Linked DNA regions of Homo sapiens. The protein of the gene in region 1 interacts with the protein of each later gene in a pairwise test. Each region holds a gene or a part of one and is shown on either strand. Other genes may lie near its edges.

Region 1 (15,496 bases):
GAAACAAGGTCTTGGCTGTTTTGCCCAGGCTGGTCTTGAAGTCCTAGACTCAAGTGACCCTCCCTACTTGGCCTCCCAAAGTGCTGGGATTACAGGGATGAGCCCCACCCAGCCAACAACCATTTTTCATTCCTCCATGCCAACTTTTCCAGTGACTAATGTGATGAAATCATTTAACTTTTATTTCTTTTTACATTGCTTAAAATAAAGAGCATAATACATATTCATTGTTGTCAGAATAGAAATTGGTACAATTTCTGTGGACATCAACTTGGCAATATCTTTCAAAGGTATTTGTACATGGCCTTTGATCCAGAAATTCTACTTCTAAAACTTAATCCTGTAGATATATAATTGATTCTCATTACTTGTGGATTTCATATTTGTGAATTCCCCCACTTACTAAGATGTATTTGTAACACCCAAATCAGTACTTACAGAGGTTTCATAATCATTCATGGGAATGTAGTGTGCAATGCAACAAAAAATTTGAGTCACCTCACTCACATGTTCCTAGCTGAGGTTGAACAAAATGATGCCCTACCTTCTTTTTGCAGCCCTCATGTTGTAAACAGGCATTCTTTTGAGTTTTATTTAGTGAAAGATGTTTTATGTTTTTGTGCTTTTCATGAGTGATTTCACTGTTTAGAATGGCCACCAAGTGTAGTGCTGAAGTGCTGCTGTCTAGGGTCCCTAAGCACAAAAAGGCTGTGGTATGTCTTACAGAGAAAATATGCGAGTGTTAGATATAAGCTTTGTTTAGGCATGAGTTATGGTGGTTTTGGCCATGAGTTCAATGTTAATGAATCAACAGTGTAAATGACCTAAAGTATTATTACACAGAAACACATCTGAAACAAGGTTATATATTAATTGGTGGGTGAAAATGTTATGACCGGAGCCTCACAGGAACTTCACCCTGTATTTCCCTTAGCAGTAGTGTTTCATTATTTGCTAATTCTGTTTTTGCAGCAACATTATAGAATGTAGCTACTGGGAATAATGAGATAAAAAATTTGACTCACCCAGCACACATGTTCCCAGCTGAGGCTGAACAAAGTGATACTCTGCCTTCTTTTATCCCAGGGATAAATCCCATTTAGCCACAGTATATAATACTTTTAGTATGTTGTTGAGTTTGGCTTTCTAGTGTTTTATGGAGGATTTAAAAATCTATGTTCATCAGAGATACTCACCTGTACTTTTCTTTCTTCTGGTGTCTTTGGCTTTGGTATCAGAGTGATGCTGGCCTCATAATGTGAGTTTGGAAGAATTCTCTCTTCTATTTTTTGGAAGGTTTAAGAAAGATTGGTATTAATTCTTTTTTTTAATGATTAATAGAATTCACCCATGAAACCATCTGGTCCTGTGCTTTTCTTTGTTGAGAGCTGTTTGATTACTGATTCCATCTCCATATTTGCTATTGGTCTGTTTGGGCTTTCTATTTCTTCATGATTCAGTTTTGGCAGGTTGTATATTTCCAGACTCTATCCATTTCTTCTGGGTTTTCCAGTGTTTTGGTGTGTGATTATTCGTAATAGTCCGTTATGATCCCTTTTATTTCTGAGGCATCTATTGTAATGTCTCCTCTTTCATTTTTTGTTTTATTTATTTGAGTATCTCTTTTTTTCTTAGTCTTGCTAAGGGTTTGTCAATTTTGTTTAGTTTTTCAAAAACCAACTCTTAGTTTTGTTGACTTTTTTCTGTTGTTTTTCTATTCTCTATTTGATTCATTTCTGCCCTAAACTTTCCTTTCTTCTGCTTACTTTGGGCTTATTTGATTCTCCTTTTTCTAGTTTCTTGAAGTGTAAAATAAGGTTGTTTAATTCAGATCTTTTTTGTTTTTTAAATCGGCATTTATTACTATAAACTTTCCTGTAGGTACTGCTTTTGCTGCATCCCATACATTTTGATATGTATATTTTTGTTTTCATTTATCTTGAGGTTTTTTTTTTTTTAGATAGGATGTTTTGCTCTGTCACCCAGGCTCAATGCAGTGGCACAATGATACCTCACTGCAACCTTGAACTCCTGGGCTCAAGCAGTCCTCCTGCCTCAGCCTCCTGAGTAGCTGGGACTACAGGATGTACCGCCATGCCCAGCTAATTGTTTTTAAAATTTTTAGAGGAGATGAGGTCTTGCTGTGTTGCTTAGGCTGGTCTCGAACTCCTGACCTATCTAGAGATAATTTTAAAATTCCTTTTTGATTTCCTCTTTGACACAATAGTTGTTCAAAAGTGTGGTGTGTAGTTTCTATGTATTTGTGAATTTTCCTGTTTTCTTAAGTTATTGATTTCTAGTTTCATTCCATTATGGTGGGAAAAGATACTTAGGACGATTTACATCTTCTTAAGTTTGTTGATACTTCTTTGTGATTATATAGCCTAAAGAATATTCTGTGTACACTTGGGAAGAATTCTATTCTTCTGTTATTTGGCAAAAAGTTTTGTATATGCGTATTAGGTCCATTGGGTTCATAGTGTTGTTCAGTTCTGTTGTTTGCTTATTGATTTCTGACTGGATGATTTATCCATTACAGAGAATGATGTATTGAAGTTACTTGCTATTATTATTATTATTTTGAGATGGAGTCTCGCTCTGTCGCCCAGGCTGGAGTATAGTGGCGCGACCTCGGCTCACTGCAACCTCCGCTTCCTGGGTTCAAGCAATTCTCCTGCCTCAGCCTCCCAAGTAGCTGGGATTACAGGCATGCACCATCACGCCCAGCTAATTTTTGTATTTTTAGTAGAGACGGAGTTTCACCATGTTGGCCAGGCTGGTTTCGAACTCCTGACCTCAGGTGATCCACCCACCTCAGCCTCCCAAAGTGCTGGGATTACAGGTGTGAGCCACTGTGCCCGTCCTACTTGCTATTATTTTATTACTGTCAATGTTTGCCTTCAGATCTGTTGTTGCTTTATATATTTAGGTGCTTTGATGTTGGGCACATATATATTTATAATTGTTACATCTTTCTGTTGTATTGACCCTTTTATCATTATATAATGACTTTTGTTCCCTCTTGTGATGATTTCTGACTTAAAGTTTATTTTGTCTGATAAAAGTTTAGCCACTCATGTTCTCTTCCGGTTACTTACTTGCATGGAATACCTTTCTCTACCCTTTTACTTTCAGCTTATGTGTGTCTTTAAATCTAAAGTGAGTCTTTTGTAGACAGCATGTAGTTGGGTCTTGTTTTCATCCATTCACTCATACTATATCTTTTGATTTGAGAGTTAAAGTAATGATTGATAGGTAAGGACTTACTATTACCATTTTGTTGGTTGCTTTCTGTTTTGTGGTTCTACTATTCCTCTCTTTTTCTCTTTGTGATTTGATTTTTATTTTTGTAGTGGGGTATTTTGGTTCTTTTTATCTTTTGTGTATCTACTGTGCTTTTTTGTTCATCGGGTTTGCATCAAACATTTTATAGTTATAGCACTCTGTCTTACGCTGAGAAGAAATTACTTTCAATGACGTATAGAAACTCTACACTTTAGTCCCCATTCACACACCTAATGTAATTAATTTCAGGTTTTACTTTATTTTTGAGACAGGGTCTTGCTCTGTCACCTAGGCTGGAGTGCAGTGGTGCGATCTTGGCTCACTGCAGCCTCTGCCTCCCGGGTTCAAGTGATTCTCCTACCTCAGCCTCCTGAGTAGCTGGGACTACAGGCACACACCACCACACCTGGCTAATTTTTTATATTTTTAGTAGAGATGGGGTTTCACCATGTTGGCCAGGCTGGTCTCTAACTCCTGGCCTCAAGTGATCTGCCTTCCTCAGCTTCCCAGAGTGCTGGGATTACAGGCACGAGCCACTGTGGCCAGCTGCATCTTTTAGTTTCTACTTGAACTTCCTTTAGTTGCTCTCATAAGGCTGGTGTAGTCATGACAAACTCCAGTTTTTGTTTGTCTGGAAAAGTCTTTATCTCTCCTTCATTCTTAAAGGGCAATTTTGATGAGTAAAGTATTCCTGGTTGGCAGGTTTTTTTTTCTTTCTTTTAGTACTTTGAATATATTATCTCCCGCTTTCCTGGCCTGCAAGGTTTCAGCTGAGAAATTCACTGATAGTCTTATAGAAGCTTCCTTGTATATTATATGACAAGTAGGTTTTCTCTTGCTGCTTTCAGATTTTTTCTTTTTGAGTTTTAACAACTTAATTATAATGAGTCTTGGTGTTTAACTTATTTGGAGACCTTTGGGCTTCATGAATTGAAATGTCCCTTTTCCTCCCTAGATTTGTTAAACTGTTAGCCTTTAGTTTTTAAAAATAAGAAGCTTTCTGCCCCTTTTTCTTCTCCTTAACTCCCATATGCCTGTATTATTTTCACTTGATGTTGTCCCATAAGTCCTGTATACTTTCCACATTCTTTTTTATTCTTTTTTCTTTTTGTCCCTCTAATGCTATCATTTCAAATGACCTGTCTTTTAAGTTTCCCAGTTCTTTTCTTCTGCCTGAGTCTGCTGTTGAAGCTGTCTCTTGAGCTTTTCAGTTGAGTCATTGTATTCTTCAGCTCCAGGATTTCTATTTGCTTCTTTTTTATGGTTTCTGTTTCTTTATTAAACATCTCTCTTTATTCATTTATTTGCTTTCCTGATTTTGTTTAGTTGTAGTTCATTGAGCTTCTTTAAGATGATTATTTTGGATTCTTTGTCATGCAATTCATACATCTCTATTTATTTAGGGCCAGTTACTAGAGGTTTATTAGTTTCCTTTGGTGGTGTCATTTTTGCCTGGTTCTTTATAATTCATATAGCCTTGCAATGGAGTCTATGCATTTGAAGGAGCAGGGGCCTTCCAGTTTTTATGGACTCGTTCGCCAAGTAAATACCTTCTCCTATTGAGTCCCTGGGTTGATGGGATTGCCTGTGGTATTGTGATTAAGCAGGGCTGAAGCTAGATTATGGGGCTACATTAGGGTTCACAGTCAGTGGGCGTACCACTAGGGGCATGGACAAGTATGTCCCATGGATGGGGAGAGCTGTCTCTGGAACTCAATAGGGTGGGACCCAAGCTGGGTCCCAGGCTGGTTTGGGTTTATGTTTGGGTCCAATCAGCAGCCCTTTTACCAGAGGAATGGACAGGCATGATTTCCACAAGGCCCCTGTTAAGGCAGGACTTCCTCTTGGCCACAGTAGAGCAGGGCTGGAGCCAGGTCAGAGTGCTGCTTTGAGTCTGCAGTTGGGTCTGGTTGGTGGATCTGTTACTAGGGGCATCAACAGACATGGTTCCTTCCCAGGATGGATGAGGCTGGTGGTAGGACTGCAGACAAGTGGGACTGGAGCCGGGTTTACAAGGGACAGGCTGATTCTGGGTCTGTAGCTGAAAGGTCAGTGGGCCTGCCTTCTCCAAGCAGCCCTTCCTAGTCTTGGGCTCCACCAAGGTTTCATAACCACCTACCTCAATCCTAAGGTTCTTACAATGGCACTTATGGCCATGGATGGCTTCCAAACTATTGTTTCTGTAGGAGGACCAGGGCTGGGGACATTCTCTTTTGCTATCTTGCTTACGTCACCTACAACCTACTTTAAAAGTAAATTTGTTCTAATGAGCATAATGAGAAACAAAGATTTTAAAAATAAACTAAATAATTAATGCCTAAGTAATTCCAGGTTAATTTTGTATACTCCAGTTCTTCCTATCAGGTATTTGTCATTCAGAGAGGTAATAGTATGAAAAGAATATTTTAGGAGTATATGAGAATATTGTATCTTTTTTTAGAATATGGTTGGCTAAAATATTTACATCTGCTCCTAAAATATTCCTGCATAAGCTTGCAGTGAGCCGAGATTGCACCACTGCACTCCAGCCTGGGCGACAGAGCAAGACTCCGTCTCAAAAAAAAAAACAAACCTATATATATACATATATATGTATATATGTATTCCTGCATAATATTATCTTGGTGTTTATATTACCTGTGAAGCTGTAAGTATATTCTTTTATTTCTGTAACAATTTGACAATTGAAGAAAAGTATGTGTTGAATTTTTAGCATCTACTACACACACACGCACACACACACACACACACACACTACTGTTGTACTTTGTAATATCAAGACACTGATAAAAGTTTTGGTGTTGTATTGTTATGGATTAAGACAAAAAAATTAAAAGATGAGATGGAGGAGCTCTTTCTATTGTAGGATTATCTATTGTTTTCATGTTTGATCTGTAGTGAAGTATATTAGTGAAATAGAGAAACAGAATGATGAGTACTAAGCTATTCATAAAATTTCAGTAGTGTGTAATACTTGTAGTTTTGAAACAAAATCAGCTAATATCACCTTGACTTTTCCCCATCTTCCTATTAAAAAAAATTGTTTTAATTCTGGATTTATGTTTTCTAATTTTCTTTTCCAGTTACCCTGCAGTTTGTGAATTTTTGCAGAACAATAATTTACTATCAATTATCAGAGCCCATGAAGCCCAAGATGCTGGGTAAGTTACATTAAAATTGTACCAAATATCGCTGCAGAGTCTTTGCATTTAATATGCAGACAGATGGACTTTCATCTCTTTTTCAGGTATCGAATGTACAGGAAGAGCCAAGCCACAGGCTTTCCATCACTTATTACAATTTTCTCTGCCCCCAATTACCTAGATGTCTATAACAATAAAGGTAAAGGAATCCAGCAATATTTGAGTTTGAATTTATGAGTAAACGTGAGCTCTGGTTTAATTGTATGTACGTATGTGTGTTTGTGTCATTTTAAAACATAAATTTTAAATAAGAAAAAAAGGGGTCTTAGTTGAAACAAAGGCCAAGAAATTTAGAATTTATGCTGCTGCTTGGTCTTTATCTCCTAAGGATTACTGGCTTCTTTGTGAGTATAAATAATGATCATAATAGGTCAGATTGATACTACAGAATCAAAGTATAAGAAGAATAAATTGCTTCAGGCTCATGCCAGAATAGTTAGCATAAATTATTGGTTTTGGTGAATTTAATGTGTTTATAACAGTATCTCAAAGTCACCATTGGTATTTTAATCTTTGTGAATTATTAAACTATTTTTGTTTTTCTTGAGATATGGTCTAGGTAGAGTGACCTAGTGTACAAAGTCAAAAAAAAACCTTCATTTTTAGTTTAAACCCTGCCAGAAACGAATACTGTGACTTTGAGTGAGTCACATTATCTTTCTAATCTTCAGTTTCCCATATGAAAAAAGAAGAATGGATATATACATGCCTTTTGTTCCAGAAATTTTACTTCTAAGACTTTATCCTGTTAAAGTCTTTTTTTTAATTTAAAACTTTTATGATTAATAGTTTATAAGTTTTCTATCGAGGCAGTGGTCCTACTAAAAACTTCATATTTCTGTAACTATTTTGTTGTTTATAAAGTATGACTATAAATTAATAGGACTTTGAAAATAAACATGCCAGAACAAACATATCCAAATGAGTATTGTCCCTTCAAAGTAGTTACCTTGGGAGGCTACACACCTATTCCAACAATGCTGTCCTTGTTCAAAAACATTTTTGGAACTCCTCTTTTGGCATTGCCTTCAGAGTCTGCGACACATTCTTTTGATTATCCTCAATGATGGGAAATCTTCGTCCTTTGAGGGTGGATTTGATTTTTGGACAGCCAAAAGTCATTCGGAGTCAAGACTGATAAATAAGGTGAGTGATCAAGCTAGATGATACCATTTGGGGTCAGAAACAAGGTATGATTATAAGGTAATGAGACTGGTTTTTCTCGTGTTGCTGATACAGTGGCTCTGGAGGCACTTCCAAAAGAGGAGTTCCAAAAACGTTTTGAGTAATGGCAGCATCTCTGGATTAATTATATGGTAAGGCAACAAGTTGTGCTGAAAAGAACACAAAGCAAGGAGTCAGTCTAGTCCTGCTTCACTTTTAAGTGTGTCACATTTAACAAGATACTTCTCTGAGCCTCATCTTTAAAATATCTGTCATATGGGGTTGTTGAAGATAAGTTGGAATAAGGAAAATGGATATTAAAGTGTTGTTCAAAATATAAATTACTATAATAATACAGATTTTACTGTTATTGTACCTGATGTGATAATATCAAAGGACCACACTCATCTGATAAAAAGGTCTGGTGTGTTTGTAGCTGGTGGTTTCTTAAGTCTCATTACTTTATAGTTATACCTTGTATATGCAGTTGGGGAGATAAGTTTCAAAGATGGCCAAAATATAATTAATATTTACTCTATTTAAAAGTAAACCATGGAATGGCACATCTCATTTAAATCCGATTTGGGTCAGTCATTTTAGTGTGTCCTCCAGTGACTTGTCTATTTTAAAAAGCATGTCTTTAACTTAAGTTCTGTCCTAGTCTTATGTTTTCATTTAACTTAGCATTCTTCTCTGAGCCTTATCTGTCCTACAATGCTCTGCTTCTCCCTAAGTTCATTTGTTATTTCCTTTTTCCTGATATTTCCAGTATATTAGCAACTTAGGTTTTATTCTTATTTATTCTCTTATCAATGGTGTGGACTGTTTGTGTTGTTAAACGTCTTCAAGGACTCTTGTGGCCCTAGATCTCCTATTTGTAATGAAGGTGTTTCTTTCTCACTTTCTTTTTTAACTTCATCAAAAAGAGTATCTATTGATTGCTCAATGGATTTATCAGTGTGCCAAGCTGAAACACGCCACCTAAGTCAGCAGGCACTATACAGCTCACTCACTGCTAGCTTGTTTTTTGTCTCAATCTAACCTGGTTTTGTTCTTGATTATTTCTTTAGCAAACTTTTAACATCACAGTCCTGGCCAGGCACAGTGGCTCATGCCTGTAATCTCAGCACTTTGGGAGGCCAAGGGGAGGATCACTTGAGGCCTAGAATTCAAGACCAGCCTGGGCAGCAAAATGTGACCCCATCTTTACAAAGAAAAATTTAAAAGTTAGCCAGGCAAGGTGGAGCATGCCTATAGTCCTAGCTACTCAGGAGGCTGAGGCAGTAGGATCCTTTGAGTCCAGTAGTTCGAGGCTGCAGTGAGCTGTGATCACACCACTGCATTCCAGCCAGGCAATAGAGCAAGACCCTGTCTCTAAAAAATAAAAAAAAAAGTAAAAGCCACAGTTCATTCTACCTGAGTATTCTGTCGGCTTTGACATAATTAGTAACTTTTATCTCAAAACAGTCTTATTTTCATTGGTTGTTTCTTAGGCATTTTAGAAGGAAAAAGGCAGAAAATGTGGCATTTGAAACAGTCCCTGGGGGTACTCAGTTACTCCCCATACAAGTGCCTTCTTTTCTGAAAAAGGGAACTCTATTATTCTTTTTCTTCTTCCTTTTCTTCTACTGTTGCTCTTCTTTCTCTTTCTCTCTTTTCTTTTCTCTCTCTTTCTCTCTCTCTTTCTTTTCTTTCTTTTTCTTTCTGCTTCCTTTTCTTCTTTCTTTCTTTCTTTCTTTCTTTCTTTCTTTCTTTCTTTCTTTCTCTCCCTCTCTCTCTCTCTCTTTCTTTCTCTCTCTCTCTCTTTCTCTCGGTCTCTGTCACTTAGGTTGGAGCACAGTGGCAGGAACTTGATTCACTGCAGCCTCGACTTCCTGGGCTCAAGTGATCCTCCCACCTCAGCCTCCCAACTAGCTGGGACCACAGGTGCATGCCGCTACACCTGGCTAATTTTAAAATATTTTTTATAGAGATAGGGTCTCGTTATGTTGCCCAGACTGGTCTCAAACTCCTGAGCTTAAGCAGTCCTCCTGCCTCGGCCTCCCAAAGTGCTGGTATTACAAGTGTGTGCCACCACACCTGGCCTCTTTCATATTATTTTTTTTTTTTCAGAGACAGAGTCTCACTGTGTTGCCCAGGCTGGAGTGCAGTGGTGCGGTCTTGGCTCACTACAACCTCTGCCTCCCGGGTTCAAGCAATTCTCCCGCCTCAGCCTCCCGAGTAGCTGGGACTACAGGTGCACGTCGCCACGCCTGGCTAATTTTTTTTATTTTAGTAGAGACGGGGTTTTACCATGTTGCCCAGGCTGGTCTCAATCTCCTGAGCTCAGGCAATCTGCCCACCTCGGCCTCCCAAAGTGCTAGGAGTGCTCTTTCATATTCTTTAGACTTCTTGGTATCTACAGGTATTTCCTAGTTCCACTAGTTACACGAAAGACCTTTAATCATGATTTTTAAAGATTCTTATTCTTGTTTTCTTCTGTCCACTGGGAACACACCCAAAAGCAGTTTTATAAGCTCTTGTTTCCAGTCATTCACTGTTGAGACTCACCTCCCACTTCTTTTTCCTGGGTAGAAATTGAGGGAGTTGTTGAATAATGATATATGACATATTTACCTAAACTAAATAAAATACATACACGTGAAAATAATGGAACATGTACATCATAGCCAGTGTTAGGCTTTTTAAGTGCTAGAAACTATATTTTAATTTATTTTCTTAATAATATATGGTGTACATTTTAGACATTCAATAACTTAAATTTTAAGAACACTAGATTATCCTGTAGCAAAGAAACAGGAATGAGGACGTGACCTATATCTGTCATTTCTGGAGAACTGTTACACCCTGTTTTATTTTATGACCACAGAATAATTAAGAGAATAGTGCAAACAACATTGCTGGTGATAAAGGCTAAGGAATTGGATTTTAAGACTTTCAAAATATAAAGAAAATCAGTTTGGCATCAAAGTATGTGTGCGACTATCTGAATGGTTAATATTAAACATAGCATGCTGGCAATACACTGCTGTGTATTGGAGAAATCGGCAATTTTAAAATCCGCTATATTGAATACAGAGATGACTTAATCTAATTTTGAACATTTAATTGTAAATTGCTCCAAGTTTGCCATTTGTATCTTCCAGTATGAGTTGATAACTGCAATATATAAACTCCCAGAGAGTGTATACAATCTTTGACTCTGGCTAATGACTAGCAAAACAGGCTGTGTCCATTTAATGAGTAATTTTTGCCTTCAAAGGAGAGTTGTAATTATAACCATTTGGCCTATAAAAGGAAATTATGGGGAAATTTTCCTCACGTGGATCTTGAGGTTTATATAGATAGTTACTGTGCAGTGACTCCAAAGTTTCAGTTTCTTTTGTACTTTTATTATATGAGCTCTTCAGGTAACTTTGTTCCTTGGAATAATTCTTAAGAGAATGAACTGAATAAAAGGCTTTAAAATTTTCCATCTGCCCTTTACCTAGTCAAGTCCTGACTTTACAAATGGAAAGTTCTCGAATTCTGTGTAGCAGGTACACAGCTGTACAAAGCATACCACTTGCCATGCCATGTTCCTCTGTGCCAGATTTTCTTGCTTTTTTCCTTTTTAGCTGCTGTGTTGAAATATGAAAACAATGTCATGAATATCAGGCAGTTTAACTGTTCTCCACACCCCTACTGGCTTCCAAACTTTATGGATGTTTTCACATGGTCTTTGCCTTTTGTTGGGGAAAAAGGTAAGAGAACTAAAGCACATGTCTCATCAGTTGTTTGGTGACTGAGCATACCTTATATTTGCATGAGCCCCTCCATGATTCAGAAATGTTTTCTAATTTTGTTTGTTCTCTACATAGATTTTTTTTTTTTTTTTCTGAGATGGAGTCTCGCTCTGTCACCCAGGCTGGAGTGCAGTGGCACGATCTCAGCTAACTACAACCTCCGCCTCCCAGGTTCAAGCAATTCTCCTGCCTCAGCCTTCTGAGGAGCTGGGATTATAGGCACGTGCCACTGCACCCGGCTAATTTTTGCATTTTAGTAGAGACAGGGTTTCACCATATTGGCCAGGCTGGTCTCAAACTCCTGACCTTAAGTGATCCGCCCTCCTCAGCCTCCCAAAGTGCTGGGATTACAGGTGTGAGCCACCGTGCCCAGCCTCTACATAGATTTGTAAATGGCATGTAATTGGTTCTTAAATTTTAATATATTATGGTTTTTTTATTGTAAATATCAATTTAAAGTAGCTGACCTACTATGATCAAGATGTTAAAATAACATAGTTACTTGTCATTCCCTCAGATTTCTTCAGTACTGAAGAGATTTAAACAGAATTTATTGTCCTTACAATTTTATTTGTACAGCTACTCAAATTAGCTAAGCCTGTTGGACGTAGGCCTGTTGGCTTAACTTTGTAAAGTGGGAAAAAAATTTTCTCACGTGTGTATCAGTGTGGGAAGAAGCTCTGAACAGCAATCCGGTAAAATCAAGTAATTAGGCAATAGATCTTCAAAGACTCCAGACTTTTACTGGAGCAAGTAATCTACCCAAATTCTTTTTAAACCTGAAAGTTTACATTTATGCTACTTTTTATAGCTATTCTTACTAACATAATGATAAATAATTTTTGCTTATGCTTACTTAACATGTGTGTTTATTTAGATATCCACATTATTTTAGAGAAAGTACCTCATTAATCGCGTAAATTTTGGATTATTTTGTCTTACTTAGTCACAGAGATGCTGGTAAATGTGCTCAACATATGCTCTGATGACGAACTGATTTCTGATGATGAAGCAGAAGGTAAACTTTTCCTCCTTTGAACTAAAACTAGAAAGAGGTTTGGTTTTGGTTTTAGTTGTTTTAGTTTATTTTGAATGATTTTCTTTGTCTTATTAAAAATAAAGTTAGTTCATTGTAGAAAAATAAAATTTGAAAAATACGAGAAACCATAAATAAGGAAAAAAAGTCACCCATAATCCCATCATCTTATAGATATCCACAGTTAACATCTTAATGTATACTGTGTTAATTGTCTTTTATCTTTGCACATAGCTTTCCTCTGTAGTACACTATTTTTGTGGAGTTTCTTTGTAGACTAGTTTCTAATGGATCTGTAGTTGTCCATGTTGATCAGTGTTGTAACTAATCCCGGTGGTGTTGGTTATTGGAGTTTTTCCCAAGTTTTTGCCGACAAAACCCATATAGTTTTGAACATTTGTTTAGATAAAAATGTGCACATTCTCTTAACCAATATTTATTACATGCTTGATATATACCAAGTACTGTATTGTTTAGGTCCTTGCTCTCAATAAGCTTATTTGCTAGTGTAGGGAGGAAAAACAGTAAATAAATATGTCAGATGAAAGGAAGTAAAGCAATATTAGAAAATCAGGAATAACACTTCTTGATTATTTCCATAGGATGAATTTGTAGAAATTGAATATCTGTGTCAATTAGTACTTAAAATTACAATTCTGATACAGATAGAAATTTCTGATACAGCCTCTAGAAAGGCTGTACCACTTTACATTTTGCAGGATGCATAGTCACAGTGCTGTCTCCAATACTGTTTATGATACTTGTTATAGTCTGGTGTTACTAAGTTTTTAATTAAATTTTTAGTTTATATTTTTATGAGACTAATGGACAATTTTTTCTTGTGTTTGTTGGCAATGTTTATCTCTCTTTTGTGACTTGTCAATTCATATCTTCTATCCTTTTTTTGAGACAGAGTGTTGTTCTGTCACCCAGGCTGGAGTGCAGTGGCGCGATCTCTGCTCACTGCAACCTTCACCTCCCGAGTTCAAGCGATTCTCCTGCCTTAGCCTCACGAGTAGCTGGGATTATAGGCGCGTGCCACCATGACCAGCTAATTTTTGTATTTTTAGTATAGATGGGGTTTCGCCATGTTGCCCAGGCTAGTCTGGAACTCCTGAGCTCAAAGTGGTCTGCCTGCCTCGGTCTCCCAAAGAGCTGGGATTAACAAGCATGAGCCACCATGCCCAGCCCCATTTTGATTTTTTTCTTATTGGTGTGTGAGGGATCTTTTTATACAGTAACATTTTATTATATATGTAGCCAAGTACTTTTTTTCCTAGTGTGCTGTGGGAGGTTTGATTATAAAGGTAGGTCCTGACTTGTCTGACAATGCAAGAGATTCTGGAAAAGTGGTGGTCATCCAAGCACAAACCGGCCTCATCCTATCCAGGCTCTGTGCTAAGGTGGTTCCCTTAACTGTGAGGATAAACCATCTCCATCGTGGAGAAAACACAACTCCCTTTGGGAATCTAGAGGAAATTACCATACACTCTCATGCTTCAGGTTCTGCACTCATGCTTCAGGTTCCGCACTGAAGATCAACAGCATATGCAAGATAGCTTGCGAGTGTTTTTATTTATGGTATAGGAGATGACTACAAGGAACCAGTTCTTCTTGAGGAAATAGTGCAGCCAAGTGAAAAACAAAAGAAAAACCGAATATCCCCCTGGGCAACATGGTGAAACCCCATCTCTACTAAAAATGCAGAAATCAACCAGATGTGATGGCGAGTGCTTCTGGTCCCAGCTACTTGGGGGCCTGAGGTGGGAGGATTACTTGAACCTGGGAGGCAGAGGTTGCAATGAGCGGAGATCTTGCCACTACACTCTAGCCTGGCCAACAGAGGGAGACCCTGTCTCAAACAAACAAACAGAAACACATATATTTCCTATTCTTTCCCACCACAAACATAAAAATAAATAAATAAATAAATAAATAAATAAAAAGGAAGAATGGGCCGGGCATAGTGGCTCACGCCTGTAATCTCAGCACTTTGGGAGGCTGAGGCAGGTGGATCATGAGGTCAGGAGATCGACACCATGCTGGCCAACATGGTGAAACCCCATCTCTACTAAAAATACAAAAATTAGCTGGGGTGTGGTGGCACACACCTGTAGTCCCAGCTACTCGGGAGGCTGAGGCAGGAGAATTGCTTGAACCTGAGAGGCGGAGGTTGCAGTGAGCCAAGATCGCACTACTGCACTCCAGCCTGGCGACAGAGCGAGACTCATCTCAAAAAAAAAAAAAAAAAAAAAAAAAAAGGAAGAACAATTATATCCCCTGAAAGAGAAGCTATAGAATCCATTAAACAAAAAAACATACTATTCCTGTGAAGAGATTTGTAAACTGTTCTGTCCTCCGTTTTTGTTCCTTGTTTTTGGCATCATTTATTCTGCAAATAATATCTTTGTTTAATGTTATTTTCATGATCTGTGGGGTTAGAAAATATTGGATGCTCATAGATGTGAATTAATGTAAAACCATAAACTTTTAAGAAATGGAAGAAACTACTGACAAAATAAATTTGCAATTTAATGTTGTATCATGATTCCAAGGATATCTCTTATGAGCTGGTAAAGATAATAGCCTGTTTCTCTCATTGCATTTCACTTTGATTTTTTTTTCTCTTTTCCATGTAAACATAAATTTCTCTTCTCATATTTCTGTCTTCATCTCCTTGTTTCTTGGTGTTTCTTCTCCCTGAAGATCACTACATTCCAAGCTATCAGAAAGGTATCCGACTAAACTGTGCTAAGAGCTTAATGCTTACTCTCTGTCCCACCATAGTCTATTGGTTAGACTTAAAATTGGTAGTTGAATAATTTCAGAAAGGCTCTCCATCCGCCCCTTCAGTTTTAATGTATATGTTTTCTCTGGACCTGTTGCGTGATCTGGCAGGGTGCTGAGGGTTGGATGTGAGGAAGGAGAGGCCATGTTTCTTTTTCTGACTTTTGACTGTAGTCACCTGGTGCATGCTGGACCTTGGCTTCTCATGTGTGGGCTATTTTCAGAATCTTAGATAA
Region 2 (14,015 bases), on another chromosome or scaffold:
GACGGAGTGAGACGCCGTCTCAAAAAAAAAAAAAAAAAAAAAAAAGATAACACTATTTCTTTCATGGCTTTCATGGATGACCCTAAGGATCTGCCTCCACTTAGCCTCAGATAAGAAAAGAGCTAATATGTCACCAAGGTGGCTCAATAATCCCCTCCTTGGTCAGCAGTCTGAGCCCTGTGTGGCGGTCACTCAACTGTTATATAATCTGCCCGACTGTTTCTGTGGCTCTGAGTGAGCGTGGCTTATACTATCTGTCCTCACCAGAACAGGGCTGGGGTGAACGGCCATTCGGTACATACCTTCAACTGGAACAGGGTATCTGCAAAGAAAGAGGGAATTAATGGTTTGAGGATTGGGAATGGGACGTTACACTTCTGGCAGGCAGGACTCACTAGGTTCCTTCTAGACACCAGGAGCTAGAACACACACACAGACCACACCTGCCTGGGGCCTTCGGGGAGCCCCCCCCAACAGGGGAGGCACGAGACAGATTCGTGTGCCAGCCCTGGCTCCTTGCTAGCCACAGGGCCCAGCAAATGCAGACCCTCCCTCCCTGTTTCCTTGTTGGGAACATGAGGGTGGTACCAGCCAATCTCAAAGGGTTAGTGTGAGGACAGAAGAGGTCATGGACGCAGCATCTTTTGGCCATGGTTAGAATCCAAAAGATGGTGGTTTATAATTAATGCAACTTTGCAAATGTCCCTTGGGATTCTTTCCCAATTTAAAAGTTCACCTGTAATCCCAGCACTCTGGGGGTGCCGAGGCCAGTGGATCACTTAAAGCCAGGGTTTGAGGCCAGCCTGGGCCAATTTAAAAGTTCAGTACTTGACAGTTTACTTTTTACAGACTCTTTCTCCTCAAAGGTAAATGGATAAAAATAGCAAGGTGGTAACTCTTAGACATCAAAGAGCTGATTTCCAGCGGTACAGTCGCTCACGCCTGTAATCACAGCACTCTGGGAGGCTGAGGCGGGCAGATCACTTGAGGTCAGGAGTTCCAGACCAGCCTAGGGAATATAGTCAGACCTCATCTCTATTAGAAAAATATATATTTTTTTGCCGGGTGCGGTGGCTCACGCCTGTAATCCCAGCACTTTGGGAGGCCGAGGCCGGCGGAACATGAGGTCAGGAGATCGAGACCATCCTGGCTAACACGGTAAAAGCCCGTCTCTACCAAAAAATACAAAAAATTAGCCAGGCGTGGTGGCGGGCGCCTGTAGTCCCAGCTACTCAGGAGGCTGAGGCAGGAGAATGGCGTGAACCCGGGAGGCAGAGCTTGCAGTGAGCCGAGATTGCGCCACTGCACTCCAGCCTGGGCAACAGTGCAAGACTCCGTCTCAAAAAAAAAAAGAAAAAATATTTTTTTTAAAAAGTAGGATTGATCTCAATTCATTCAACTGCTAAATTTGGAGAGCGACCCTGACCCCAGATTCCTGAAAGGGCTTTACCACACTAGCCACAACGAGGAAATGGAGCCTGTAAAAGAATGAGGTTACTGAGTGTTCACAAATGCACACCAAGGCTCCAAGATGAGATCTCCCGGGGTTCCAGAAAGCTCTGGGCATCGTTCAATCTATCGCCTGTCAGTGCAGGCGTGGTCAAGGCCAAGTTCAACCTGTCATCTATCAGTTCAGGTGTGGTCACGGCCAAGGTTATCTGTGACTGGAAAACAGCCAGCCTGACCCAGATGGCACAGTGCAGGCCAGGCGGGCCGTCCCACCCAACTCACTGTGGGATGCTGGCCAAACCGCCCTCCTCATCTCAGCTTTCCCTCACCTCAGCTTTCCCTCACCTCAGCTTTCCCTCACCTCAGCTTTCCCTCACCTCAGCTCTCCTCACCTCAGCTTTCCTCACCTCAGCTTTCCCTCACCTCAGCTTTCCTCACCTCAGCTTTCTCTTCCAGCCGTGTGTGGCAGCACAAAAACCCAGCTAAGGCAAAATCTGACTCTGAGGAAATCTGACATGGGCTTGAGAGAAGTCCCCTCAAAAGAGTTGAGTGAGCTGTGGAGTGAAAAGCCACAATTTTTCTTTTTTTTTTTTGAGACGGAGTCTCACTCTATCACCCAGGCTAGAGTGCAACGGCACCATCTTGGCTCACTGCAACCTCTGCCTCCCAGGTTTAAGCGATTCTCCTGTCTCAGCCTCCCAAGTAGTTAGAATTACACGTGCACGCCACCAGGCCCAGCTAATTTTTGTATTTTTAGAAGAGACGGGGTTTCACCATGTTGGCCAGGCTGGTCTCAAACTCCTGACCTCAGGTGATCAACCAACCTCGGCCTCCCAAAGTGTTGGGGTTACAGGCGTGAGCCACCACATCCGGCCTCCCAAAGTGCTGGAATTACAGCCGTGAGCCACCGCGCCCGGCCTCCCAGAGTGCTGGGGTTACAGGCCTGAGCCACCACACCCGGCCTGGCCAGCATATTTTTTGTGGCGGGAGGTAGATGTTATCTTTCATCTTCTCTCAGGGCAGAAAATCTCTACACATTTCCTTCATGATGATGACACGGTGGTACTATAGCTTTTCACACTTCTAACTAAAAGAATTTTTTTTGAGACGGAGTCTCGCTCTGTCGCCCAGGCTGGAGTGAAGTGGCGCGATCTCGGCTCACTGCAAGCTCCGCCTCCCGGGTTCACGCCATTCTCCTGCCTCAGCCTCCCGAGTAGCTGGGACTACAGGCACCCGCCACCACGCCTGGCTAATATTTTTGTATTTCTAGTAGAGATGGGGTTTCACTGTGTTAGCCAGGATGGTCTCGATCTCCTGACCTTGCGATCCGCCGGCCTCGGCCTCCCAAAGTGCTGGGATTACAGGCGTGAGCCACCGCGCCCAGCCCTTCAAAAAGTATTTTTAAAAGCCTGCCCATCACACCAGCCCAACGATGTTTCAGCAAACATAGGACTTCATTTTGCCAGATTCTTCCTGTTCTTTGGTATCCCTGAGCACACAGCCGGCTAGCCCCAGATGTAGAAGGTAAGAATTAGGGCGACCCATTGAGCACAGAAACGCTTGTGCTGGCTCCTGCTCAAACCTCTGCTTCCCCACATGGAGAATGGACGCAAAGAGCTGCTGTGACCAGGGCCTGGCACTCAGGGAGCGCTTTCTGTCTGAGTCCTTCTGATTTGCAGTGATGCTGTTTGGGGCAGGGGGTGCAACTGTCACTTTTTCTGGTGCCCTCTGACCCGACATTCCAAGTCCCGAAAGGCCGAACAGGCATCGCACAGTCCCCCCTACCGAGCTGGCGGGAAAGGGCGCCTGACGCTGAGGAGTGCCAGGGGCGGGGGAAAGGGTCCTGGGTCGGTGGTCGGGGGTCCAGGCCCTGGGCAAGGGGTCCTGGGTCGGGAGTCTAGGTCCCGGGTCCATGGTTGGGGGTCAGAGGTCGAGGCCCCGGGGAAGGCATACCGGGTTGAGATTTGGGGATGGAGGCCCCGGGGAAGGGGTCCCGAATCGGGGGTCGGGGATCGAGGCCTGGGGGGAGGGGTCCCGGGTCGAGGGTCGAGGCCCGGGGTAAAGGATCTCGGGTTGGGGGTCGGGGGCCTGGGAAGGGTCCCGGTCGGTGGTCGGGGGTCGAGGCCCGGGAGAAGGGGTCCCGGGTCGGTGGTAGAGGCCCTGGGGAAGGGGTTCCGGGTCGGGGATCGAGGGTCGAGGCCCGGGAAAAGGGGTCCCGGGTTGGTGGTCTAGGCCCTGGGGAAGGGGTTCCGGGTCGGGTATCGGGGGACGAGGCTCGGGAAAAGGGGTCCCAGGTCGGTGGTCGAGGCCCTGGGGATGGGGTCCGGGTCGGGGATCGGGGGACGACGACCGGGAAAAGGGGTCCCAGGTCGGTGGTCGAGGCCCTGGGGATGGGGTCCCGGGGGATCGACGGTCGAGGCCCGAGCTCTCCTGAGTCCTGCCCGCGGCCCCAGGTGGGCGGAGCCCACGCCAGTGGGAGAAGCGGCCCCGCCCCGCGCGCGAGTCCCCGGAGGACGGCCGCGACCTCTTACCGTCCATGGCCACAATGACAGGAGCAGCACTCGGAGAGGGAGAAGGGACGCCAACTCCGGGCGGTGTCAGGTCCCGGCGGCGATCGAACCGACCAAGCTGCACCCGGCGGGGACTTCCGGGGTCGCCGCCCCACTTCCGGTCGCACGGGATGCTCTCGCGAGAGGATGGTGGCCGGTCCCGCCAGAGGGGCGGGGCGCGGCTGCGCGGCGCGCGGTCGCCATGGTGACGCACGCCGCTGGCGCGAGGACCTTTTGTGAGTCGCTCCCGGCTCCGCGGCCGCGGAGGTGTGGGGACCCGGGCTTGCGTCGGAGGGGGCGGTGGGCTCACCCATGGGCCTTTCCAAAAGCAAAGAGAAACCCAGGAAAGGTAAAGGAGGCGCAGGCGCTGGGCTCCCCGCGTCTCCGCCCCTGGGCGCGGGCCCAGGGCGGGGCTGGGCTGGGCGGGGCGGTGTGAGCGCAGGCGCCAGGCTCGGCCCGGTGCGAACCGTTCCTGCCGCCGAGTCCGCCACGGACGGCGCGTTTCCCGCCTGAGGCGGTTACGGAAACGCGGAGACTCGAGACTTGAAGCCAGCTTATTCTGGACCCACGCAGGCGACTGAAGACGATGGGACCCACTGCCCTGCATTCGGTAAGTCCCGGGTCTAACGGATGATCCATATATTTCAGGTGAGGAGCAAAAGAAGGGATCCACCTATTCAGTTCCAAAATCTAAGGAGAAGTTGATGGAGAAGCATTCCCAGGAAGCCAGGCAGGCAGACAGGGAGTCGGAGAAGCCTGTGGACAGCCTCCACCCGGGGGCCGGGACAGCCAAGCACCCGCCGCCGGCAGCTTCGCTGGAAGGTAGGAGACGGCGGGAGGGAGCGAAGCGAGGTCAGTGGCTTGGAGGATCTGGGGCTGGGGTGAGGAGCCTACTGTAAGACCCTACCGGATGGACACTAGTAGCAGGCACGCGCCGTAAAGATGAAACTGGTTTGTTTTGGGAACTTTATGTAGGAGGTAAATATCCAGAAATCTTAGTTGAAAACATAAGTTTAATGAAAATGTAGGTCAGTTCCCGAGTGATAAGTGCGTACCAGGTGGTCGAGGGGCTGGGGCAGTGTGCGTGTGTCTCACCTGAGGTTCTCCTCGAGGGCTGGGTATCTTGGTGCCACTGAGAATCCCTGAGCCTCCGCACACTGGAACAGAGCATTGGGAGGCCGTCCCAGGCTGGACTGTAGCTCTCCGAGGGCTGTGGGGATAAGTACATTGCGGAGGGTGACCGAGGAGTAGAACCTGGGTGCGACAAAGGTGTCTTTTATAACAGCCTAGTGTGGCCAGACCTTTGGGTGTGTGTGGGGAAGATGAGGCCCCAAAAGTAGGAAGAAGCTAGAATACAAAGTTTTCCATCAGTTTTACCACGTGGAGCTGGAAGCGTTAAATATTTTAAACAACGGAGGTGCTGCCTGGGGCGGTAGTTCACACCTGTCCTCCCAGTTATTTGGCCGAGGCAGGAGGATCTTTTGAGCCCAGGAGTTCAAGACCAGCTTGGGCAACATAGTGAGACCCTGTCTCTACAAAAAATAAATATTTAAAAATAAAAAACAAGGGCGGCATGATGAGGTCTGTGCCTACCAACAGGGGAAGCCAGTTCGCAGGGGAGGTGGCCCGGTCAGAGACCCATTGCTGTGGCCCAGTGGGAGCCAGCAAGGCCTTGCAGTAGGAATTGCAGAAGGGTCAGGCAGGGAGAACCCGCAGAGCCTGCCGTCCGAGGAGATTGGGGGCCTGTGCCAGGAGGAGGTGTTTTAAGTTTCATCACAAGAATGAACCACTCGGCTGGGCGCAGTGGCTCACGCCTGTAATCCCAGCACTTTGGGAGGCCGAGGCGTGTGGATCACTTAAGGTCAGGAGTTCAAGACCAGCCTGGCCAACGTGGTGAAACCCTGTCTCTACTAAAAATACAAAAATTAGCTGGGCGTGGTGGCATGTGCCTGTAATCCCAGCTACTCAGGAGGCTGAGGCAGGAGAATTGCTCGAACCTTGAACCGGGACCCGGGAGGCAGAAGTAGTGGTGAGCGAGATCGCACCACTGCACTCCAGCCTGGGCTACAGAGTGAGACTCTGTCTCAGAAAAAAAAAAAAATAATAAGGAGAGAACCACTCGGGTCAGACAAGAAAGAATGTCAGGGGGATGACTGGCCTGCTAGGCAGAGGAGCTGGGCCTGGACTGCTTCACACTGACACGCTTGTAGGATCAAGGGCTGAAAGTAGGAGGCTCTGGGCCTTGGACTTGGAAGAAAGACTTGGATTTGAATTCCCAACTTTGGAACCTCCCACTGGAGGGTGGAACCCCTCACAGGAGGGCGCAACCCCCCACCGGAGGATGGAACCCTGCAGGAATAGCATCACCCTTGGGTGGCAGTTTGGAAAATGCTACCTGTCTGTCACGGTGCTTTTAGCTGAAAGTTACAGAAAAGCTCACTAAACGCAGCTTTAACACAGGGATTTAATGTCTCACGAATGAAGGGTCAGAGGTGGAGCTTCCAGGTTGGCTTGTTAGCACAACAGTGACATCAAAGACTTTGCGTGTCTCTTCTTGACCACTCTCAGTGTCCACAGCCCCCGATGAGTGTACAGCCCCCCACACGCAGGCAGGACTGCATCTACTGCAAAGGCATTGCTCCTTGCTTCATATTAGCAAGGAAACCTTTCCCAGGAAGGCTTCGCCTGCCCAGCCTCTGCAGGACTCATTCAATGGTGCAAATTCACCAGGGGCTGGAGGGAGCTGTGAAGCATGGGAGTGGGCAGGACCTCTGCCAGTAACGGAAGTGGGGGAAGGAGGACCGCCTGTTGGAAGGGCCCCAGCAGTGTCTGTCACACCAGAGGGTGGGGGAGGAAGGTGGACATGAAGGGAAAACAGCAGAGCAAGAGTGAGAACAGAGTTTCAGCAGATAAAATGAAGTGTGCACGCTCTCCATGCAGTGACGGGCTGAGCGACAGTGAGGAGCAGGCTGCTGACTCCCTTGCCACACCGTGAAGGAGTCCCAAAGGTGGGACACTGAGTGAGACAAGCCAGAGGAAAGACCACTCATGTTGCAGTTCCCTTTCCATGGAATGTCCAGAAAAGGCACATTTACAGAGAGAAGCAGATGAGTGGTTGCTGGGCAGAAATGGGAGCCGGCCACAGCTGAGCACAAGAGGACTTTGGAGGGTGATGGAAATGGTTTTCGACCTGAATCTGAACATGGGAAGCACTGCAGTTTAGTAGTCCTGGTCCCTAAGCCCTTCCAGCCCAGGAGCCAGACCTGTGAGCAAACAAGCCTTTAGTGATTCCAGGCTCTGGCTGGAACCTTGAGTCTTCTCAGCTTGGGGCATGCACCTCAGGGGGAGCCAGCATCAGTGTCCAGCCCCAAGAGCTTCCCTGTACGTCTCAGTGAGTCTTCACATGCCTCCAACTGCCTGGACAACCACACGTGATACCTGTCCTGCCAAACGTGTCCTGAACCCATAAAATCCAGAGAAAAGAAAATCGTTTTAAACTGCTGAGGTTTGGGGTAAGTTACTATGAAGCAGTAGTGAGAAGAACAGAAGGGCCATGATGGGGAGAAAGTTTGGCCATAAGTTAATCACTGTGGCAGCTGTTAGGATATTGATGTGGCTTGGCTGTGTCCTCACCCAAATCTCATTTTGAATTCCCACATGTGGGAGGAACTGGGTGGGAGGTGATTGAATTATGGGGGCAGGTCTTTCCTGTGCTGTTTTCGTGATAGTGAATGAGTGTCACGAGATCCGATGGTTTTAAAAACGGGAGTTTCCTGCATAAGCTCTCTCTCTGCCTGCTGCCATCCATGTAAGATGTGACTCGCTCCTCCCTACCTTCCGCCGTGATTGTGAGGCGTCCCCAGCCATGTGGAACTGTAAGTCCATTAAACCTTCTTCCTGTGTAAATTATTCAGTCTCTGGTATGTCTTTATTAGCAGCATGAAAACGGACTAATACAGATAGATGTATTATACTGTTACCCCTACTACTTCTGTATATGCTTAAATTTTTGCATTACAAAATTCACAAACATACAAACATTATAGAGAACTAACATCACAGATTTACAGTCACCTTATTCCACAATGTTGGAAATTCTACCACAAATAAAGAACTTGAAAAAAAAGGAGGGGATGTTAGAAGGAAATCTGAGCGACCTAGACCTGGGCTCAGTCACGCCTGAGACAGTCAGATGGGGTATCTGAGGATGAGTCAGTGTTAATTTTCTCAGACCTGGGCTCCGTCACTCCTGAGACAGTCAGATTGGGTATTTGAGGATGAGTCCGTGTTAATTTTCTTAGATGTGGGAATGCTATTATAGTTACGCTAAAACACAATCCCTATCTAATAAATACACTGCAACATTTATGGGTAAAATCATATGTCTGAAATTCCTTAAAGATACTCAGAATGCCAGGCATGGTGGCTCATGCTGTCATCCCAGCACTTTGGGAGGCCGAGACGGGTGGATCACTTGAGGTCAGGAGTTCGAGACCAGCATGGCCAACATGGTGAAACCCTGTCTCTACAAAAAATACAAAAAAATTAGCTGGGTGTGGTGGTGCACACCTGTAATTCCAACTACTTTGGAGGCTGAAGCAAGAGAATAGCTGGAACCCAGGAAGCAGAGGTTGCAGTGAGCCACGATCATCCCACTGCACTCCAGCCTGGGCAATGGAGTGAGACTCCATCTCAAAAAAAAAAAAGATACTCAGGAAAAAAACGAAGAAAGAACAAGATAACAAAATACTGATTGAAGCTGAGTGCTCTATAGGTGCAGGTGCTCATTCACTATTCTATTTTCTTGTGTGTTTGAACACTTTTTTTTTTTTTTGAAATGGAGTTTCCTTCTTGTTGCCCAGGCTGGAGTGCAATGGCATGATCTCGGGTCTCAACTCACTGTAGCCTCCGCCTCCCAAGTTCAAGTGATTCTCCTGCCTCAGCCTCCCAAGTAGCTGGGATTACAGGCGCCCGCCATGACGCCCAGCTAATTTTTTTTGTATTTTTAGTAGAGATGAGGTTTCGCCACGTTGGCTAGGCTGGCCTCAAACTCCTGGCTTCAGCTGATCCACCCGCCTCGGCCTCCCAAAGTGCTGAGATCACAGGCGTGAGCCACCGCACCTGGCCTCCCAGAGCGCTGGGATCACAGGCGTGAGCCACCACGCCCAGCCTGTTTGAACACTTTTGTGACGTTTTGTTGTTTGTTTGTTTTGAGATGGAGTCTTGCTCTGTTGCCCAGGCTGGAGTGCAGTGGCACAATCTTGGCTCATTGTGACTTCCGCCTCCCGGGTTCAAGCAATTCTTCTGCCTCAGCCTCCCGAGTAGCTGAGACTACAGGTGTGCGCCACCATGCCTGGGTAATTTTTGTATTTTTAGTAGAGACGGGGTTTCACCATGTTGGTCAGGCTGGTCTCAAACTCCTGACTTTGTGAACCACCCGCCTCAGCCTCCCAAAGTGCCAGTGTTACAGGTGTGAGCCACCACGCCCGGCCTGTAACATTTTCATGAAGGTAGAGTATACTTAATTGCAAGAAAATTTTGAAAAAGAAGAGAAATGGAACACTTCTATTGGCTATTAAAAAATACCATGCTGAGTGAAAAAAGCCAATCCCAGAAGGTCACATGCTGTATGATTCCATTTCTTTTTTTTTTTTTTTTAGGCTGGAGTGCAAATGGCACGATCTTGGCTCACTGCAACCTTGGTCTCCCGGGTTCAAGCAATTCTACCTCGGCCTCCGGAGTAGCTGGGACTACAGGCATGCGCCACCATGCCCAGCTAATCTTTGTATTTTTAGTAGCGATGGGGTTTCTCCATGTTGGTCAGGCTGGTCTCAAACTCCCGACCTCAGGTGATCCGCTTGCCTCAAACTCCCGATCTCAGGTGATCCGCTTGCCTCGGCCTCCTGAAATGCTAGGATTACAGGCGTGAGCCACCATACCCGGCCGTGATTCCATTTCTGTAACATTCTCTGAATGACAAAATTATAGACAGGGAGGACAGATTGTTGATTGCTAGGGCCTTGGCGTTGGGGTAGGGAGTGAGGGGGTCTGTGAAGGGCAGGGCTTTGGGGTTGGGGTAGGGAGTGGGTGTGTCTGAAGGGCAGCAGGAGGAAGATGGGATTGTTGGTTTTGGTGGTGATTGATTAAATGGCGTAGCTGTACATACACTCATAGTACCGGAGTCCATTTCCTCGTGTCGATAATGGTACTATAGTTATATAAAACGTTCGCTTTGGGAGCCAAGCACAGTGGCTCACGCCTGTAATTTCAGAACTTTGGGAAGCCTAGGCAGGCAGATCACTTGAGCCCAGAAGTTCAAGACCAGCCTGGGCAACATGGTGAAACCTGATTTTTACAAAAAAGACAAGAATTAGCTGGGTGTAGTGGAGTGTGCCTGTAGCCCCAACTAATCAGGGGCCTGAGATAGGAGGATCCCTTGACCCCATGAGGTTGGGGCTGCAGTGAGCCAAGATCGTGCCACTGCCCTCCAGCCCCGGCGACAGAGTAAGACCCTATTTATGCTTCCTAGCAAGGAAAGACAGTACACATATTGAAGAATTTGACTGCGTTAAAATGTTAAACCTCTCCCCAAACTCTTATAAACAATTGTAGAACAAATGATAAGCTCAAAAAAATATTTACATCTATGAGAGGCCAAAGAATATCAGTTGACTCTGGATCAGGGGCTCGGACACGTTGCTGTGGAGGCACACATCTTCCTGGAAGGCGGTTTGGTAACAAGGTGGCAGGACTCAAGACAGCCCACACGATCCCTGCCCCTGGGAAACAGCCATGTGTAACCCTCCCCTCGAGTGTGGGTGGAATGAGGAAGAGGGAGGTGTGTCTCTCCTGCGATTAGCTCACTCATCCATTGAGTTTGACGTCATCAAAATGCGAGATGATCCTGGATGGGCCCGACCTGATCAGGGAAGCCAGACAGTAAAAGTGTCAGAGGCTCTTTAGGGCCCGACCTGATCAGGGAAGCCAGACAGTAAAAGTGTCAGAGGCTCTTTAGGGCCCGACCTGATCAGGGAAGCCAGACAGTAAAAGTGTCAGAGGCTCTTTAGGGCCCGACCTGATCAGGGAAGCCAGACAGTAAAAGTGTCAGAGGCTTTTTAGGGCAGCGAGAAAACGGGAACTTCATTCCTTGAACCGGGAATAAATTCTGCCTCCAACCAGAATGGGCTTAGAAGAGGGTCCTCCAGCTCCTCATGAGAATGCAGTGCAGCCGGCCCCTGGAATTCAGCCTGCGTCCCAGCCACGCTGCACCTGCACCCCTGACGACGAATGCAGTAAGATGATAAGTGGATGTGCTGGTTTCAGCCCTGAAGTTGGTGGTGATTTGTTGTGCAGCAATAGAAGTACACACAATATGTACCAAGAACCTTGAGAAGAGTCACATTTATTCTTTCTGTTTTGTTTCTGAGATGGTCTCACCCAGGCTGGAGTGCAGTGGCACCATCTTGGCTCATTGCACTCTTGACGTTCTGGGCTCAAACGATTCTCCCACCTCAGCTCCCTGAGTAGCTGGGGCCACAGTGCACGCCACCACCCCCAGCTATTTTTTGTAGTTTTTGTAGAGATGCGGTTTTGTCATGTTGCCCAGGCTGGTCTCGAACTCCAGAGGCCAAGCAATCTGCCTGCTTCAGCCTCCCAAGGTGCTGGGATTACAGGCGTGAGCCACCGCACCTGGCCCAAGATTAATATTTCTTTTTTTTTTTGAGATGGAGTCTTGCTCTGTCGCCACCCAGGCTGGACTGCAATGGTGCATCTCTGCTCACTGCAAGCTCCGCCTCCCGGGTTCATGCCATTCTCCTGTCTCAGCCTCCCGCATAGCTGGGACTACAGGTGCCTGCCACCACGCCTGGCTAATTTTTTGTATTTTTTTTTTTTTTAAGTAGAGATGGGGTTTCACTATGTTAACCAGAATGGTCTTAATTTCCTGACCTCGTGATCCGCCCGCATCGGCCTCCCAAGGTGCTGGGATTACAGGCGTGAGCCACTGCGTCTGGCCTAATATTTCTAAATGAAGAAACTATACTTTGAGGAAGATGAAATAAGTCTTGTTTTAGACTAGAAAATTTCAATAGTGTAAATACGTTAACTTCTGTAAAATCAGTCAACACCAAGTCAAAACACAAAAGATCTTTTGGGAATATGAGCAGATTATTCAAAGGTTCATCTAAAGAATAAAAATGAGGCCAAGTGTAGTGATTCACGCCTGTAATCCCGGCACTTTGGAGGCCGAGGCAGGTGGATCACTTGAGGTCAGGAGTTCAAGACCAGCCTGGCCAACATGATGAAAGCCCATCTCTACTAAAAATACAAAAATTAGCTAGGCGTGGTGATGGGTGCCTGTAGTGCCAGCTACTTGGGGAGGCTGGGGCAGGAGAATCACTTGAACCTGGGAGGTAGAGGTTGTAGTGAGCCAAAATTGTGCCACTGCACTCCAGCCTGGGCGACAAGAGTGAGAATCCATCTCAAAATAAATAAATGAATAAAAATGAAAGCAGTAGGAAACATCTGGAAAACCAGAGGCATGAGGGGGTCGGGCCCTCTGATACTCAAGTAGGTTAGAGTAAAAAAAAGCCAGATATGGTGATGTGGGAATATATGGTCCCATAGGTGGGATCTGTGGTTCCAGCTACTCAGTGAGGTCCGAGGATCACTTGGGCCTGGGAGGTTAGGACTGTAGTTTGCTATGATCACATCCACGAATAGCCACTGCGCTCCTTCCTGGGCTACAGAGTGAGACCCTTCTCTAAAAATGGAAGAAAATGGCCGGCACAGTGGTTCATGGCTGCTGTAATCCCAGCGCTTTGGGAGGGTGAAGTGGGAGAATAACTTGAGCCTGAGAGTTCGAGACCAGCCTGGGCAACATGGCAAAACCGTGTCTCTACAAAAAATTTCAAAATTAGGTGGGTGTGGTGGTGTGTAGGGTCCAGCCCCACAGGGTCGGTGGGTTTTCTCCCCATGTGCGGAGATGAGAGAGCGTAGAAATAAAGACACAAGGCAAAGAGATAAAAGACAGCTGGGCCCGGGGGACCACTACCACCAAGCCGTGGAGACCGGTAGTGGCCCCAAATGCCAGGCTGCACTGATATTTATTGGATACAAGACAAAGGGGCAGGGTTAGGAGTGTGAGCCATCTCCAATGATAGGTGAGGTCATGTGGGTCATGTGTCCACTGGACAGGGGGCCCTTCCCTGCCTGGCAGCCAAGGCAGAGAGAGAGGAGACAGAGAGACAGCTTACGCCGTTATTTCAGCATATCAGAGACTTTTAGTACTTTCACTAATTTGCTACTGCTATCTAAAAGGCAGAGCCAGGTGTACAGGATGGAACATGAAGGTGGACTAGGAGCGTGACCACTGAAGCACAGCATCACAGGGAGACGATTAGGCCTCTGGATAACTGCGGGCAAGCCTGACTGATGTCAGGCCCTCCACAAGAGGTGGAGGAGCAGAGTTTTCTCTAAACTCCCCTGGGGAAAGGGAGACTCCCTTTCCTGGTCTGCTAAGTAGTGGGTGTTTTTCCTTGACACTGACGCTACTGCTAGACCATGGTCTGCTTGGCAACGGGCGTCCTACCAGACGCTGGCGTTACCACTAGACCAAGGAGCCCTCTGGTGGCCCTGTCTGGGCATAACAAAAGGCTCACACTCTTGTCTTCTGGTCACTTCTCACCATGTCCCCCCAGCTCCTGTCTCTGTATGACCTGGTTTTTCCTAGGTTATGATTGTAGAGCGAGGATTATTATAATATTGGAATAAAGAGTAATTGCTACAAATTAATTAATGATATTCATATATAATCATGTCTGTGATCTAGATCTAGTATAACTATTCTTATTTTATATATTTTATTACACTGGAACAGCTCGTGCCCTCGGTCTCTTGCCTCGGCACCTGGGTGACTTGCCGCCCACAGTGGTGCGTGCTGGTGGTCCCAGCTACTTGGAAGGCTGAAGTGGGAGGATCATTTGAGCCCAGGAAGTTGAGGCTTCAGTGAGCCATGAT

The links.
Region 2: the proteins of PPP3CC (region 1) and SPATA33 interact in binary tests that used the Homo sapiens proteins (3 or more experiments, as listed by UniProt).

The regions. Positions count from the first base shown.
Region 1 is NC_000008.11:22,516,123-22,531,618, forward strand, and holds part of PPP3CC (serine/threonine-protein phosphatase 2B catalytic subunit gamma isoform), read left to right. Parts: intron 1-6,368; coding exon 6,369-6,446; intron 6,447-6,532; coding exon 6,533-6,627; intron 6,628-7,520; exon of another isoform or gene 7,521-7,634; intron 7,635-11,269; coding exon 11,270-11,395; intron 11,396-12,383; coding exon 12,384-12,455; intron 12,456-15,179; coding exon of another isoform or gene 15,180-15,206; intron 15,207-15,496. UniProt on the Homo sapiens protein: Calcium-dependent, calmodulin-stimulated protein phosphatase which plays an essential role in the transduction of intracellular Ca(2+)-mediated signals. Dephosphorylates and activates transcription factor NFATC1.
Region 2 is NC_000016.10:89,653,602-89,667,616, forward strand, and holds the start of SPATA33 (spermatogenesis-associated protein 33), read left to right. Parts: upstream 1-4,234; 5' UTR 4,235-4,310; coding exon 4,311-4,347; intron 4,348-4,466; exon of another isoform or gene 4,467-4,646; coding exon 4,647-4,820; coding exon of another isoform or gene 4,821-4,850; intron 4,851-6,938; coding exon of another isoform or gene 6,939-6,949; exon of another isoform or gene 6,950-7,907; intron 7,908-14,015. Other genes in the region: CHMP1A (charged multivesicular body protein 1a), read right to left, coding at 3,981-3,987. UniProt on the Homo sapiens protein: Plays an important role in sperm motility and male fertility. Required for sperm midpiece flexibility and for the localization of sperm calcineurin to the mitochondria. Promotes mitophagy as well as acts as an autophagy mediator in male germline cells.